2 linked regions of the Homo sapiens genome follow. The protein of the gene in region 2 interacts with the protein of the main gene of each other region in a pairwise test. Each region holds a gene or a part of one and is shown on either strand. Other genes may lie near its edges.

Region 1 (7,653 bases), on a different chromosome or scaffold from region 2:
TCTACCCTTCCTGTGGGTCTAGGCTAAAGTGTCACTTTCTCCAGGCTACTTTCCTCTACCTCCACCCCAGCTAGGGTAGGTGCCCCTCCCCTAGAGCACCTGTACAACGTATTGCAACTGTCAGTTTACTTCCCTGTGCCCCCTGCCCCAGAGTATGGGGCCAGCACCTCCTTGCCCACCATTATATCACAGGCATTCAAATATCTGTTAAATATATTCTAAGTTTACTCAGTGAACAAAATATGAATGTGGCCCATACAGTAAGGGAAACATGTCCAAAGTCAGTTGTGATACGATGGAAACAAGGCGGCAATGTTGCTATGCTTTGGTATAAAATACAAACTACACAATTGTCTACAAACGTCCTTAGGAAAGGTTAAAACATTGCACCAAAAAGAACACTTTTCACGATAAAAATACTAGTTTTGTGGTCACTACTCCTGCTAGGTAAACTGAAGTTCATAAAAAGTATCAGACTGAAAATATCTAAAAAGAAGCCCTGGTTGCTTATAGGTCAAGTACAACATTAGTGTAACTTTTCCTGTCTGCTGCCACCAAACTCTATTGGCATTATCAGAACCCTACCGGCTAAAGGTAAAAGGCTGGCCGGGCGCGGTGGCTCATGCCTGTAATCCCAGCACTTTGGGAGTCCAAGGCAGGCAGATCACCTGAGGTCAGAAGTTTGAGACCACCTTAGCCAACATGGCAAAATCCCGTCTCTCCTAAAAAACACAAAAATTAGCCGGACATAGTGGTGTGCACCTGCAGTCTCAGCTACTTGGGAGGTTGAGGCAGGAGAACTGCTTGAACCCGGGAGGTGCAGGCTGCAGTAAGTCGAGATCACGCCACTGCACTCCAGCCTGGGCAACAGAGCAGGGCTCCGACTCAAAAATAAATAAATAAATAAAGGTAAAAGGCTATTCCATTTCCTTAGTTTCTAAGCCTTGATATAAGTCTTTCGATAAAGATTCCATTCATGGTAACAGTCCGAAGGACATAAACGTGTTGCCAGGAAAGAGACCTGATACATCCTGAGCATTAGCTGCCACTGGCAGCGACTTTCTTTAGGACATATGTCTTACAATGAGTTACAATCTGAGGCTTGTGACACAAGATTTTTCCAGGGCAGCAGACTGATACCATAAACATGATGGTACTACGCACTCTAAAGAGCTCACCAGCTCCACCCTACACTCCCTGTGTGAAGCGGCAAATTATCCACCCAAAGCCTCAGTTTCCCCAGCTAATAATGAGATAATGGTTCCTACCTCGCAAGATTCTTGTGGGAATTAGACAGTCCATGAAAGCACTTCACAGGCAAACCAATTATTTTCAAATCAAAATGAAGGGAAGACTAGAAATATTTTCACATTTTTAGGACTTTTTATATGCCACAACTTATTTTTGACTAATGTCCTTCCACAGGGAAATTTTTGAGAAAGGCAGAAAAATGAGAAAATGAAAATCCACTTCTTTGTCATAACCTTGAGATACGACAACTTCCACAGAAGTCTACATTAAGATCCACTTTCTAATCTTTCTCTGCACTCCCAAAATTACTCTTAATTTCTGTTAACCATTCCTACAATATGGGAGATAGCAAAGGGAAAACTACTTCCATACTTCTTCCCAAGATGTCCTCACCAGAAACAATCTTCCTTCCTGCCTCTATGTCTCCAAATATACGGAATCTCTCAAAAAATAAAACTAAAACAAAACGATAAAAGAGAAAAGGGACTCAAATCACAAAAGCCAGCCTTCAAAGTCTCCAGCTTTCTTACTGCAGAACTACAGTCATGTGGTATGATGGAGGCACCTGTTAGGTGGCAATCCATGAAGCTTAAAGTGTTACCAGGAGAATTTAAACAGTAATGGGGGGAGGAAGAGGAGCTGATTTCCCACCTCACATTTTTTTCGCCTTAACACATGATGGCCAAACAATATATGCTACCCACTGTCAACATTTTTATCATTTTTACTTAAATTGAGAAAGAGGAGAATTTGAGAGCCAACTGAGGAAACTGGATCTCATATTCCCCAATCCAGGCTGACTTCAGGTTTTGTGTGGTTTTTTTCTTCCTTTTTGACAAGGAAATTTTACATATCTCCTGAAACGTGTTTTACATGAAGGTGAGACCTCAACAATCTTATAACTTTACCCCAGCCTGGTTCTGGACTCGGTTTTTACAAACGGGTGACGTGTGAATAGCTTCCTAAAAGCAAATGGGGCACTGGGATATAATCTAGGAAGTGATGATGCAAGTCTCCGGAGGACGGGGAGGAGGGGAGGTGAAGAAGTCAGAGGAAATACCCTCCTAGTGCCTGGGCACCAACTCACGCCCCGGGAGGGAGGAAGGGCTGGCTTCCACATGCCCACGGAAGGGGCACCCCTGCTCCTCCCGGAGCGGTCAACGCCGCCCCCTCATCCCTCCCCGCCGCCCTGCCCCCCTCACCCGTGGCCCAGGAGGCCCCCGTGGGCCCGAGCTTCAGGCCGGCGAGTCCCAAAGGGTAGCAACGCACCCCCGGCAGGGCCTTCTCTGCCCACCCCCAGCTCCCCACCCGGCACCCCTCCCCGGAACGCGACCCCCACCCCCTCCCCGTAGGCCCGGGCTGGGCCCAGCCTCCAAGGTTCCGGCCTCCCGGGCCCCGAGGCCTGCCCAGGCTGCCCTGGCGTCTGCGCCCCCGGCCCCCGCCCCCCGCCCCCACCCGGCCGGGCACTTACCCCCAGAAGCCGCAGGGACAGCGAGGCGGCAGGCTGGGCGCTTTGCTGCGCTCGCTCCCAGCGTCTCCCATGGTGCTCGGCGGCGGCGGAGCTCGGCGGCGGCAGCGGTGGCGGCGGCTGGGCCCGGGCCCCGCTCTGAGGAGGCGGTGGCGGCGGCGTCGGGGGGCTCGGGGCGGGGGGAGGGGGAAGGAGCGGGCGCGCGGGCGGGCGCGAGTCCGGGGCTCGGAGCCGGGATTCCAGGCCGGTCAGCTGGAGGCGGGCCGCACCACTCGGCCTGCGGAGACGGGGAGGGGGCGGAGAGGCGCGGAGAGAAGAAGGAGGGAGCCGAGGAGGAGGGGCGTGCGGACGCACCGAGGACCGCGGGGGAGGAGGGACACAGACGCCCTCGGCGGGTCTCACCGCCGCTCCCCAGCCAGAGAGATGTCCTGTGCGGTGGCGCAGGGAAGGACCGGAGCCCCCCGCCGGCTCCGGAGTCGCAGCGGCCGCTCTGAAGCCCCGGGCCCTGCTGTCTCCGTAACACCGTCCCCTCCCCCGGAGGCTGCGCTGACCGGACAATGGCCGCTCCGCCCCCTCCCCGGCGTGCGCCCCTCCCGAGGAGTCACAATGGTCTCGCCCGGGGGAGCCAACGCCAAAGCCCAGCCGCTGATCAGCTGGGATCCGGGCGTGCCACTTCGTTCCGCGCCTCAAAGGCGGAGTGCGGGGCTGTGGGAGAAAACGAGAGCCTCGGGCTGTCGCCCGGCGACGGGCGGCTGAGGCCTTCGTATTCTTAGAACTTTTAGAATCTGAAGCAAACTTATCTTCCCCCTGTCTGAAGAAGGGGAGCAGGTTTCTGAGTACTCCGGGGCGCGGTGCCTCCCCCTAAACGCGAATGGTGCGCTCCAAGCGGGAGGGGGAGGAGCAGATTAGTTGTGTAGGGTAAATTGGGCCAGTCCCAGAGTGGCGGCGCATGCGCCCGTAGAACCCGTAACCGAGTGCGAGGAGGGGCCTGGGGGAGCAATGCCAAACGCGGAAGTGGAGCTCTGGCTTCCCGGGGGCGTCGGAGTCAAGGTCCCTGGAGCTGCCGCTCTGGCTCCTGGGCGATTCCGGGGAGCCATTCTCCCCAATTTGCCAACTCCCTGGGCATCTCTCTCTCTCTTCCTGGTCCCGCCACACCCAAACAACTCTTATAGTTCCACCCGGTATACTGGTCTCTTGACAGGAACTTTTGGGAAATGCCCCTCCCCCAGCCCCTTGTCTGGGGCAACTTCCTTGTCTCTTCTCCCCCACCGGTGTTGGGGAGTTCCTTGTCTCCACTCCCAACCACAGAGCCACAAGTACATTATCTATGCCCAGGCGAGTCCCTATGCCCAGGCTAGGAGAGCCGCACTTCTTCCTACAGCTGACACGTTTGGTTTTTGGAGGGGAAAGGGGAGCTGTAGCTGAATCAGTAATGGAAATTGGTAAGTGACCAAAGAAGTTTGAGACACTAAAAAAATGAGTCCTTTAACGATCCTAGTCCTTGATCCTGAGCTCATTCTGATCTCCAGTTAGTCATGAACAGAGAAATCGATTATTGATGACTAATTCAACACGGAGGCAACATCCTCCAGACCTTTTGGAGACCCATCGCTGAGGAAGACTTCCTGGCTCTTAGGAATAGCTGCCGTATACCCTCCTTGCCTGTCGGGTATATCAGAGCCTCAGAGAGACTATTACCTAGATTAATTTGATTACCAAATGTTGCTATCTTATTTCTTTATATACCAAATCACATTTCTGTTTGTGCATACTGTGTGGGTTTGTTAACATTGATGTTTATTTTGGCCTCTAAAGAGCAAGGATCGCATTTAGCTTAATATGCCACAGATGCTGTTGATGGTGAAGTTAATGATTGCAAAAATCAAGCACTTAAAGCCAAAACACCCTAAAATGTGAGTGCTGATTTATTATGCACAATGTTTAGTTTTAATTTGGTGGATTTTCCAAAGCCTTCAATAAGTATATCTGTAAGAAAGTGCATAGAAAAAGCCGGACGCTGTGGCTCACGTCTGTAATCCCAGCACTTTGGGAGGCCAAGACGGGTGGATCACCTGAGGTCAGGAGTTCGAGACCAGCTTGGCTAACATGGTGAAACCCCGTCGCTAGTTAAAAAAAAAATACAAAAACTTAGCCGGGCATGGTGGCACGCGTGTAATCCCAGCTACTTGGGAGGCTGAGGCAGGAGAATCGCTTGAACCCGGAGGGCGGGTGTTGCAGTGAGCCGAGATCATGCCATTGCACTCCAGCCTGGGCAACAAGAGCGAGAGCGAAACTCTGTCTCAAAAAAAGAAAGAAAGAAAGAAAAAATGCATAGAAAGGATAAAGCCATACAGCACACCTTGCTCTCATTGGATTCATATTACCCTTAAATCTTCATTTAAGCCGACATAAAATTCCCACATGCGTGAGATACTTAACAGCCTTTGAGTTTAACAAAGATTAAGTGGGATTATCTCTCTTGGCATCTTGATGATTTTCTTTTATGTACAGAAAAGGAAACTCGACAACTAAAAGGAGAATTCAACATAAAAAGTGATTGTCATTTTCCAAACTGCTTTCCTGTTTGCCAGTTATTCAACAAACATTTATTCAGTACCCAGTATACACAAGGACTTTGCTAAGCACTCTGGAGACTAAAAGGATTAATAAAATGTAGCATTCACCAGCAGGTCCCTACATATAATGTAGATAATTTGGTTCCAGTCTTCCTCTCAGACTTCATTTTCTACTCTTCTCTATTCACTCTGCGAAGCAGACACTAGTTGCCATTCCTCAAATACCTTGCTTTCCCACATCTCCATTCCTTTGTCCTCCTGTTCCTGACTGCTTCAGCTGCCTTTTCTCTTTATATGTATACACACAACACAAGGAGATAATCTTATACAACCCAAGGACACAGAGAGCAGTAAGATCGCATGAAGGACTGAAATAGGTACCTAATACATCAACAGGAAGCCAAGTGTTTGGTTTTTTTCGATATCTTTTTCTCTCTGGTTACAGGTTCTTCCATCTCTGCTTCTCTCTACAAAGCTGCTTTATAATCTCGGCAGAGCTGTTTTCACTGCTTTTTTGGGAACGTAATCCAGGTTTACCCAGCCTCACTTCAAGAACAAACAGAGACTAATTAGTATCTATGAATCCCAATCCCCAGGAGAAAGAAACTGATTGGTTCGATTTATGTCCGCTTGTGTACTCTTGGTACAATCACCTTTGACCAACAGGGCAGTTATGTAGTCAGGTCTTTTTGTTTTGTAAAGCAGACATGGCTGCCAGAACCCCATCTTTGTAGGCTATGTTCTCAAAGTTATGTACTTGGCAAAGATTCCAAAAAATGTCCACCACAGACCATAAAGGAGTAAATTGCAGCTGAACTTCAAAAGCATAAAGAACAATTGACATGTTAAGGATTTTCAACAGACTGACTCCTACTTAAACAAATTCAGACCTGAATTTAAATGGAACTCCTTCAAAGAAGTCATCCCTGACCCAAGCCCCAATCAAAATTTGGTGGCCCCATTATTATCTTACATGGCACTCTTTTTCTTTATAGTACCTATCATAGTTTAAATATGTATTTGTGAGTCTCCTCTCCAAAAATCATGTCTGTTTTGTTTACTGTGATATACACAATACTCAAGGTGCATTTGGGAGGCGTTCAATAAATGTTGTATGAATAAAAGCACAATAATTTGTTAGTCAATGTGAGACCCACAAATGGATTGGAGTCATAGTTAGACAATCCTGGGGGAATGTCTTAGTTACCAACCCACCCTCCCTAGAAGACATTGAAGCTCTCTGCTTTTTTTTTTTTCTGACCTCATTCATCACAAGGCTGCCAGCTTTTTTGTCACACTGAAGTTGTATGAGATGAGACAGTATTTAGCTGCTGCTTATGACGTTCCTAGCCAGATAACTCTTTACTCTTAGTTCCCAGTGTCTCTATCTATAGAGCCCTTGATCCAATTCCTATAACAAGCCCACTTAGTTGACTGAAAGCTCAGAGAGGACATAAAATTTCAGGGCATCATCAAATTAGGGGAGCAAAGTGTGGGGGTAATTGGCAGAGTGCTTTTGTCGTAATTGTCTTGACTATTTTCTGTCGTGTATTATGTTCCAGATGAACCTGTGATGTGACTCCTGGGAGTAGTTTGCAATCACCATTGGCCCAAAAGGAGCCATCTACGTGCTCAGTGGGGTCTAGTAAAGGATAATATTAATTCTTCAGCAGCCAGAGCTTTTGAAGTAGGAACTGAGGGTGTATAGAAAAGAGCCTGGTATGATTCAAGGTCAGGAGCAAACAATGGCTGCCTTCTTGGTAAGAATTCAAAAGACCTACTTAGCCCTGGAAGACTTTACCAAAAAGAAGGGACTTGTAGAGACCTGAGAGAAAGCAGATGATCCTCCACTCTAATTCTAATCCCTACCCTTGAAACTCACTCTCAGTTCAAAACTTGTCATCATTATAATCCATCCTAACCTAGTATTAGCCCCAATGTCCAATCCAAACTCTAGATTTAATTCTAATCCTAATATTATCTGTAAAATTTAATCTCAGTTCCCAACTCTAGTTTTATGAGCTTAACAAAGGCTCTTTGCCTTGCCACTGAGTTATTTTCCCTAGCTCCTTTTTCTTGGGTCCCTTGACCCTGACTGACGAATGAGAGCAGAGAACCCTATAACATCCTGGACCTCTGGAGAGAATGAGAGCCAATTTCAATAATCCAGGTTGGATCCAAGGCCTTGGGCTGCCAGGAAAGAGAAAGTGGGGCATCTGTGACCAGAGCAGGAGGCAGAGACCCTGCCCAGTCACATTTCTTGTTGCCTAATTCAGGGACTACTAAGCCTCTGAAAGTCCAGAATACATGCACTCCAAGTCACCTATGTAGACTCAGGAATGTGAGGTACAGTTGGCC
Region 2 (7,595 bases):
TAGTTCTACTCATAGCTCACACACATCAATTTAACATTTAACATAGAATTTTACATGTTAAATTTTTTTTTTTTTTTGAGACGGAGTATCACACTGTCGCCCAGGCTGGAGTGCAGTGGCACGATCTCGGCTCACTGCAAGCTCCGCCTTCCGGGTTCACGCCATTCTCCTGCCTCAGCCTCCCGAGTAGCTAGGACTACAGGCACCCGCCACCGTGCCCAGCTAATTTTTTGTATTTTTAGTAGAGATGGGGTTTCACCGTGGTCTGGATCTCCTGACCTCGTGATCCGCCCACCTCAGGCTCCCAAAGTGCTGGGATCACAGGCGTGAGCCACCACACCCAGCAATTTTTTTTTTCTTTTTTTTTTTTTGAGACCGAGTCTCACTCTGTAGCCCAGGCTGGAGTGCAGTGGCATGATCTAGGCTCACTGCAAGCTCTGCCTCCCAGGTACACACCATTCTCCTGCCTCAGCCTCCCAAGTAGCTGGGACTATAGGCACCCACCACCATGCCCGGCTAATTTTTATGTATTTTTAGTAGAGATGGGATTTCACCGTGTTAGCCAGGATGGTCTCAATCTCCTGACCTCGTGATCCACCCTCCTCAGCCTCCCAAAGGGCTGGGATTACAGGCGTGAGCCACCGCGCCCTGCCATGTTAAATGTTTTGTCCCAGTGTGCTGTCACATAGTCTTGTGTGACTTTGTCTTCTTATTCCACAGACAGAACCATCTAGACAGTGCCCTAACGCAGTACAGTCTGTGGCCTCTGATGAGCATAGATAACTGCCCCAGCCAAGAGGCTCTGAAAGGCTGCAACATTGGGGGCAGAGTTTGACCTGGTTAGTCAAAGAACAGGTTGGCCCAGCACCTAGCTTCCCTTGCTCCCTCCCTCCTTCCCTGCCCGACCTCAGCCAGCTGTACCTTTCTCTCCAGTCTCCTTGGCGTGTCCCACCACCTCCTTCACCACTTCTTCCACGGCATGAACTGAACAGAGGAGACAAGTCCAGGGTGAGGGCTCAGAGCAGAGCCGCTGCCCTCCCAGTCCAGGGTGAGGGCTCAGAGCAGGCCCACTGCCCTCCCAGTCCAGGGTGAGGGCTCAGTGCTGGCTTATCCTCACAATGGACCTATACATCCCTGGACATCCTAGATGGGGCTCTGGGATGCCACCCCCAGCCAGGACAGACTGGCTCATGAGAAGGACCTTCCCCCACAGCTGGCTTCCTTCGGAGACGCCAGGGCCTTGGCTGCCGGGAGACGAGCTCAGTGAGCCCCATGAGGGCATGGGTCCCTGAAGCCCCTTGGCCCTGCCCGGCCTGGAATGGCAATGAGCAGGCCATCTTGCCAGCTGAGACATGAAGCCCAGGCTGGGCCTCTGTGCCAGGTCACACCCCTCTCAGGATGTGCTAGCGCCTGCCTCAGGTTGGTTTCCAAAGCCTCATCCAGTAAAACCAGGTCTCTCAAAGCAATTCCTCCAACAAAAGGGAATTCTCTGCCTACTTCAGAGTTTTTTAAAGTGTAGGTGGTAGCATGCTAGAACTGAAGGATTTCAGAGTCAGAAGAAATGGTTCTTATTCTAACTCTACCTTCCACCTCTTGGTTCCCTCATCTTTAGAATGGGAATCTGTTGGGGTGATGAGACCCAACACCAGGTCGCGGGGGCGGCAAGTCCAGAGGAGTCAAAGGAATGAGAAAGAGACAGTTTGAGAGAGAAAATGGGAGCGGGGCGCCATCGCGAGTGTGGAGGCTGCGAAGGCCCGGAGTTCTGGGAACCCATGCTATTTATTGGTGATCTAACAAAGAAACAGGTGGTGAGGATGTGGCGGTTGAAAGGAAACGGTGTATCAAGTGAATGAGAAACATACGGCTACTTGAGAAAATGGGAGTGCTAGAAGCAAGGAGCCAGCCAATCTAGCAAGCCCTGCCTCAGCTTCTCTCCCAACACTCAGCTTTTCTCCCAACAGGAATCATACAAAACTCAGAGGCTAGTGAAAGGTTAAAGCAGGTGGTCCACACCAGCTGCAGAGTCAAAAACAAAATACGCGTCTGCTGCCATTTAGAAAGAGGACACAAACTCAGGCAAGACTGTTTTTCACACGATGACCCATGAGTGGCTCCTGGCTGGGCCTCCCCACACATAGCTGCTGACCTCTGAATACAACATACACTTCGGGACCAGGTGCGGTGGTTCACGCCTGCAATCCCAGCACTTTGGGAGGCCAAGAGGAATGGATCACTTGAGGTCAGGAGTTTGAGACCAGCCTGGCCAACATGGCGAAACCCTGTCTCTGCTAAAAATATAAAAATTAGTTGGGCATGGTGGTGGGTGCCTGTAATCCCAGACACTCAGGAGGCTAAGGCATGAGAATCACTTTGAACCCAGGAGGCAGAGGTTACAGTGAGCCGAGATCGCACCACTACACTCCAGCCTGGGTGCCAGAGCAAGACTCCATTTCAAATACAAATAAAAATAAAAATAAACATGCTTCAGGGGACTTGGATGAAATTGAAAATGCCCTTTTTGACTTTGAACAGACTTGGTGACTTGTTTAGAAATCTTTGAAGCTTTAAAGTTATGGTAAAAATAAAAATCCATCTTCCTTTTCCTGCATAGGTTATTCAGAATAGGCTGTTTTGACAAGAAAGGCTCCCCAGATTTCCAGAGGGAAGGGTCCAAGCTGCCAGTGTTCACCCAGCACCAGGACTCATGCCCTGCCCCCAGGAGACCTCCCCAGGTCTGCACCCCTCAACTCCGTGCTGACTTGGTAGAGCAGGGGACCAGGGTTCCTGAGGGGCCAAGGCCTCCTCCCAGGTCCTCACCTGCCTACTTAGATCCGCCTCCCACAGACCCAGTCTGCCCCAGATCCCCCCAGCCCAGGTAGAAAGGAGCCCCAGGTCCTCACTGGCTCCCTCGGTGGCCTTCTCGGTGCGGTGGGCCAGGCCTTCGGCAGCCAGCTTCCCCAGGCCTCCCAGCATCGTGTGGCAGCAGACAGTGGTGAACTAGGATGCTGAGGACTGGCCCAACATGCTTTTATAGCTGCCTCTGGTGCCTGTCTAGGCTCTGGGGCAACAAGCCCTTGCCCCAGCCCAGTAGGAGGCTGGACAGGTGAGTCAGCGAGGGCGGCAGCAGGAAGGGGCTGGGCGGAGCCACCCTGGCACTGGGGTGGCAGCATCCCCTGACAGCCTGAGGCTTCTGTAACCCTGTCCTAGGGACCCCGTGAAGGATAGGGGCAGGGAGCAGGGCTGGACAGGAGAGATCTGGACATGCCTCTTCCTTGAGGCAGAGGGCCTGAGTGCCAGCCCCCCGAGACCAAAACTTCCCAAGCCTGGGTACTGATATGTACCTGGAGACAAGGCCTAGGATTCCAAGCCTGCTGCTCAAGGTCCCCAGTGTGGCCTAGTAAGAGGTTTAGGGGTTCTATGGGCCTGGAGACCTGGGCAGTCCTTTGGGTCATGAACACAAGTGGAGTGAGGGTGACTGCCCTCCCCATTCCTGGAGACCCTGGCTCTGCAGAGCAGTTTGTGGCCTCTATGGGACAGGGTGGGGCGTTCAGGGTGGTGCCTTGCCTGAGTCAGAGGGGGGCACAGCACTGGGCAGAAGTGTAGTCACCTGGCTTTGCTCAGCTGATGCTCACTCACCCAAGAGTGTCTGTGAGGCCAGCAGTGCCCTCCTATCCCCTGGCAGTCCTGGAGGAGTAGACAGAGGCCTCCACCACCACTCAGGGAGATGCTTCTGGCCTTAGCTAGAATCCCCTAGAAAGCAGCTTCCCTGGCTCCTGGTGCATCACATGAGGAGTGGCAGGGCTGCTCCCTAGTTACTCATGATGGACAGACATGCCTCAAGCCACCTGCCACATGCTGCTTCCCTTAGTCACCAGCCCAACCTGAGCCTCCGTTTCCTCATCTGTAAAATGGGGATAGCGTGCCTTCCTGGCTGTGTCACTAATCGTCCCTGAGACAAAGCATGCAAGCTCCTGGTAAACACCTGTTCCCTCCACTCATCATTGAGGTGCCCTTTGGCAGTGAGCTCTGACCAACCGGTAGGGTGGGCCAAGGAGTGACTGGGACGTGAGGCTGCCTTGGAGCCAGAGGGCTGGGGAATGTGACTTCCGCTGGCCAGGAGCCAAGGAGAGGTCTTCCCATCCTCCTACTTCTGGGGTGCAGGCCTGTGGCAGGGGTCTGAGGCTCTCTCTTCAATGCAGGCTCCTGGAGCTGCTCTCCTGGGTGTGTTGGGGCCTGATTAGTTTACTGGACTGTGGGCCCTCCCAGCCTGGGACTCGGGAGCTGAGACCCTCTTGCATTCCTGCATGGTGTTTGCGGGCTCCAGGGCTACGGCCAGTCCCCCTAGGGTGGACAGTGGGTATCGTGGGCAGCAGGACCTCTGGGTCTCAAGACTACGGCCCCACACATGCCATTGCTATCTCCTTTGGGCAGGGGTGAATTGGGGCTTAAACAATTTAGAGGGGCCCTCTTTATGAAAAAGAATACAATAATATGATTCTTGCACATTTTTCATTTATATACGTATGAACTTCTGGACCCAGAAGGGGCTGTGAAAGTCGGGGGCCTGGAGCTCAGGCGGGTCCAGATGACCCTGTCCTCCTTTTGTAACAGCCAGAGTCCAGGATGTTTTTGCCCAGGGCATTGGGCTGGCACTGCAGAGGCCTGGGGGATGGGGGGACACCTGGGACATGGCTGGTGGGAATTGTTCTAGGAAACCTCAGGGATTCTCCCTGGACCTGTCAAAGCCCCTTCCCTGTTTCTTCTGAGGCTGTGTGTCCCCCACTCGCACAAGGGTCCTTTCTATGCCTGTTCCGCTGATAAATGTCATCTGCCTGCTCTAGAATGGCTTCCAGACCCCACAGACCCCCTCCTCACGAGCTCCCACCCTAGGGTACTCTCCACCAGTCCCCGCTTTCAGGAGCTCACCAGACTCAGACAGCCTGTTGTCAGAGCTCAGCCACACAGCAGGACCCTGGCCCACTGCCCAGACCAGAGCCAGGCCCACCGCAGCCTCGGGGGACAACTGTCCTTCCCCCACCCCCTCCACATGGTCCCCTGCCCATGAGACCCTGCCCTGCTAATTTAATGCACTGCCTTGGTGTGAGCACTGTGATTCTAATGACAACACACCATGGCCTTCTGGGCAAGGCTGGGTCCAGACACAGATCCCAAATGCCTGCTGGGGAGAAGGCAAGAGGCCCGGGGAGGCCCAGGACAAGACATGGGTCCCAGGCCCTGGTGCCCTCCCTCTTGGCCTTCCAGCCGCTGCTGCTGTGACCAGATTCCCATCCACCCAGCCCAGTCCATGGGCCCCAGCAAGCCATCTGTGCCCCACAGAGGGCAGACCCCTAAGAGTGGGACCCCTTTCTAGCCAAAGAACATGAGATGGCCCCAAATCCTCCTAAACAGGATGGATCCTGGTCTGAGGGGCTGGGCTCAGGTGACTCCTGCAGGGAACTTCACCTGCCTGGATGAGGTCAAGGGTGAATCAGGTGGGGCCTGCCCTCCACCACCCCATCATGGAAGAGGTCCAGCCCACGGTGGGCCCAAGAGGGCCGCCCTTGGACCTAGGGACCCAAGTCAGCATATCCTGAGTCAGAAGGTCAAGTCCAGCCTCCCCTCAGGCAGGGAGAATCTGGCTTTGACAGGAGCAGATAAATTCTCAAGGTGGAATTTGCCCAACAAACTAGTTTGGCAAGGGACTAGCTGGCTGAATCATTGAGTCAAGGACAGCCAACGTTTCCAATAGCAATTTGCCAACTTAGCAATGACCAATTCTGAAAAACAATTTGTTTATTTGAAATACTTAAATACTTAGGCTGTCTCATGTCTGAAGCATGATGATGCCTTGCGTGATTTAAAGGACAGACGTCACGAATGCCAAGAGTTTTGTGGCGGTCCATCCTGCCAGTGTCTTCTCCCACTTTTGCTCTGTGGATTTGAGCTCACAGTTTGTGCTGTGCCCACCACCTGCCCACCCTAACGAGACTCCTGGAGACTTGGCTGGCCAGTCACCAGAGGAAGAGGGGCCCAGCAGCATGCCAGCATTCACCCACCTGTGGGTATCAGTCAGGCTCCTGGTGGAAGCCAGAGGACATATTGGAATGGGTATTTGAGGAAAGGGGCTGTTCACAGAAGTGTGGACCGAGTTAAGGGAACCAGTAAGAGATGAGGAATGTCCTGGACCAGCAAGAGTGGGAGCTGTTATCTCCCTGGGTCTAGAGGGACAGGAAAGGTGTCCACAGATCCCAAAGAGAGCTGTGGAGGTAGAGGAGGATCATCAGGAGCTGCAGCCATCAGTAGAAAGATGTGGCCACTGCCAAACCAGCAAGGAAGAATCTGAGCGAATAACCACCTCTCCTCTCTCTCTCCCACCTCCTATGACATCCTCCACTGTTTGAATTCCACTAGGGCCAGACAGTGAGGCACCCTGGTGATGCAGTCCAAGAGGGAGTGGGCAGAGAGGAGCCAGTGGGTATGGAGGGGAAACAGAGAAACAGAATTCCAGCTCACTCTGCGGGATTTCTGGGTCTGATAGAAACATGGCATTATTATTATTATTATTATTATTATTATTATTATTATTATTATTATTTCGAGATGGAGTTTCGCTCTTGTTCCCCAGGCTGAAGTGCAGTAGCATGATCTCGGCTCACTGCAACTTCTGCCTCCTGCGTTCAAGAGATCCTCCTGCCTCAGCCTCCCGAGTAGCTGGGATTACCGGCACATGCCACCAACGCCTTGCTAAGTTTTGTATTTTTGGTAGAGATGGGGTTTCACCATGTTGACCAGGTTGGTCTTGAACTCCTGACCTCAGGTGATCCGCCTGCCTCGGCCTCCCAAAGGGCTGGGATTACAGGCATGAGCCACTGTGCCCAGCCTGCAGCAGCTTAATTTTACAGTGTCCCTTTTCTCCTTCTGGAAACTATATGGAGCAACAACAAGACTGAGGAGGAGGAGGAGGAGGAGGAGGAAGAGAAGGAGGAGGAGCAGGAAAAAGCCCATCATCAACACACACATCAAACTCAACTTCAGAGAAATTAGGAAGCTGGGAAGCCACGTAAACCCAAAAGCAGGAGACACCAGCAGAACCAACGCAGGAAGCCAGGGAAGTGCAGAAGAACAGGGCATGGGGGGCAACCCAGGGGGGAAATCTTCACTGTTGCCAGCAACACACACTCCCAGCAGGAGAGGACCCTCAGAGTGAGAATGCAGAGCTGGAGAAGTGAAGAAGGAGCAGGTGGTGCCCGGGGAAGTCCAGCGGTGTGGTATCTGAGAGCACTCCTTCCCAAGAGAGGCTGGAGCACTTGAGAAGGCAAGGCTGAGTCCCCGGAGGCTGTATCCGGGAAAGGAGGCTGGCAGTAGAATCTTCCTGAAGCCAAGTGGGTTCTGAGAGGCAGAGGGGCAGTGGTACAGAGGTGAGGCTGACGCTTCTGTGCAGGAAGGGCAGGCTCCTGAGGAAGGGAGACCTGAATGCTCTCCACTAGATTCCCAGGGAGCCCCACTCCCTCCACAGGACCTCGCGCTGACATCTGGGAAATGCCATTCATACTGGAACCTCCGACACACTGCCATGAATGTGAGGGTTTCGTGAC

Evidence for each region. Proteins that work in one complex are often made in the same cells at the same time.
Region 1: the proteins of FAM25A (region 2) and ZFAND3 interact in binary tests that used the Homo sapiens proteins (3 or more experiments, as listed by UniProt).

Annotation. Positions count from the first base shown.
Region 1 is NC_000006.12:37,815,086-37,822,738, reverse strand, and holds the start of ZFAND3 (AN1-type zinc finger protein 3), read right to left. Parts: upstream 3,013-7,653; 5' UTR 2,794-3,012; coding exon 2,723-2,793; intron 1-2,722.
Region 2 is NC_000010.11:87,015,703-87,023,297, reverse strand, and holds the start of FAM25A (protein FAM25A), read right to left. Parts: upstream 3,005-7,595; 5' UTR 2,974-3,004; coding exon 2,901-2,973; intron 985-2,900; coding exon 922-984; intron 1-921.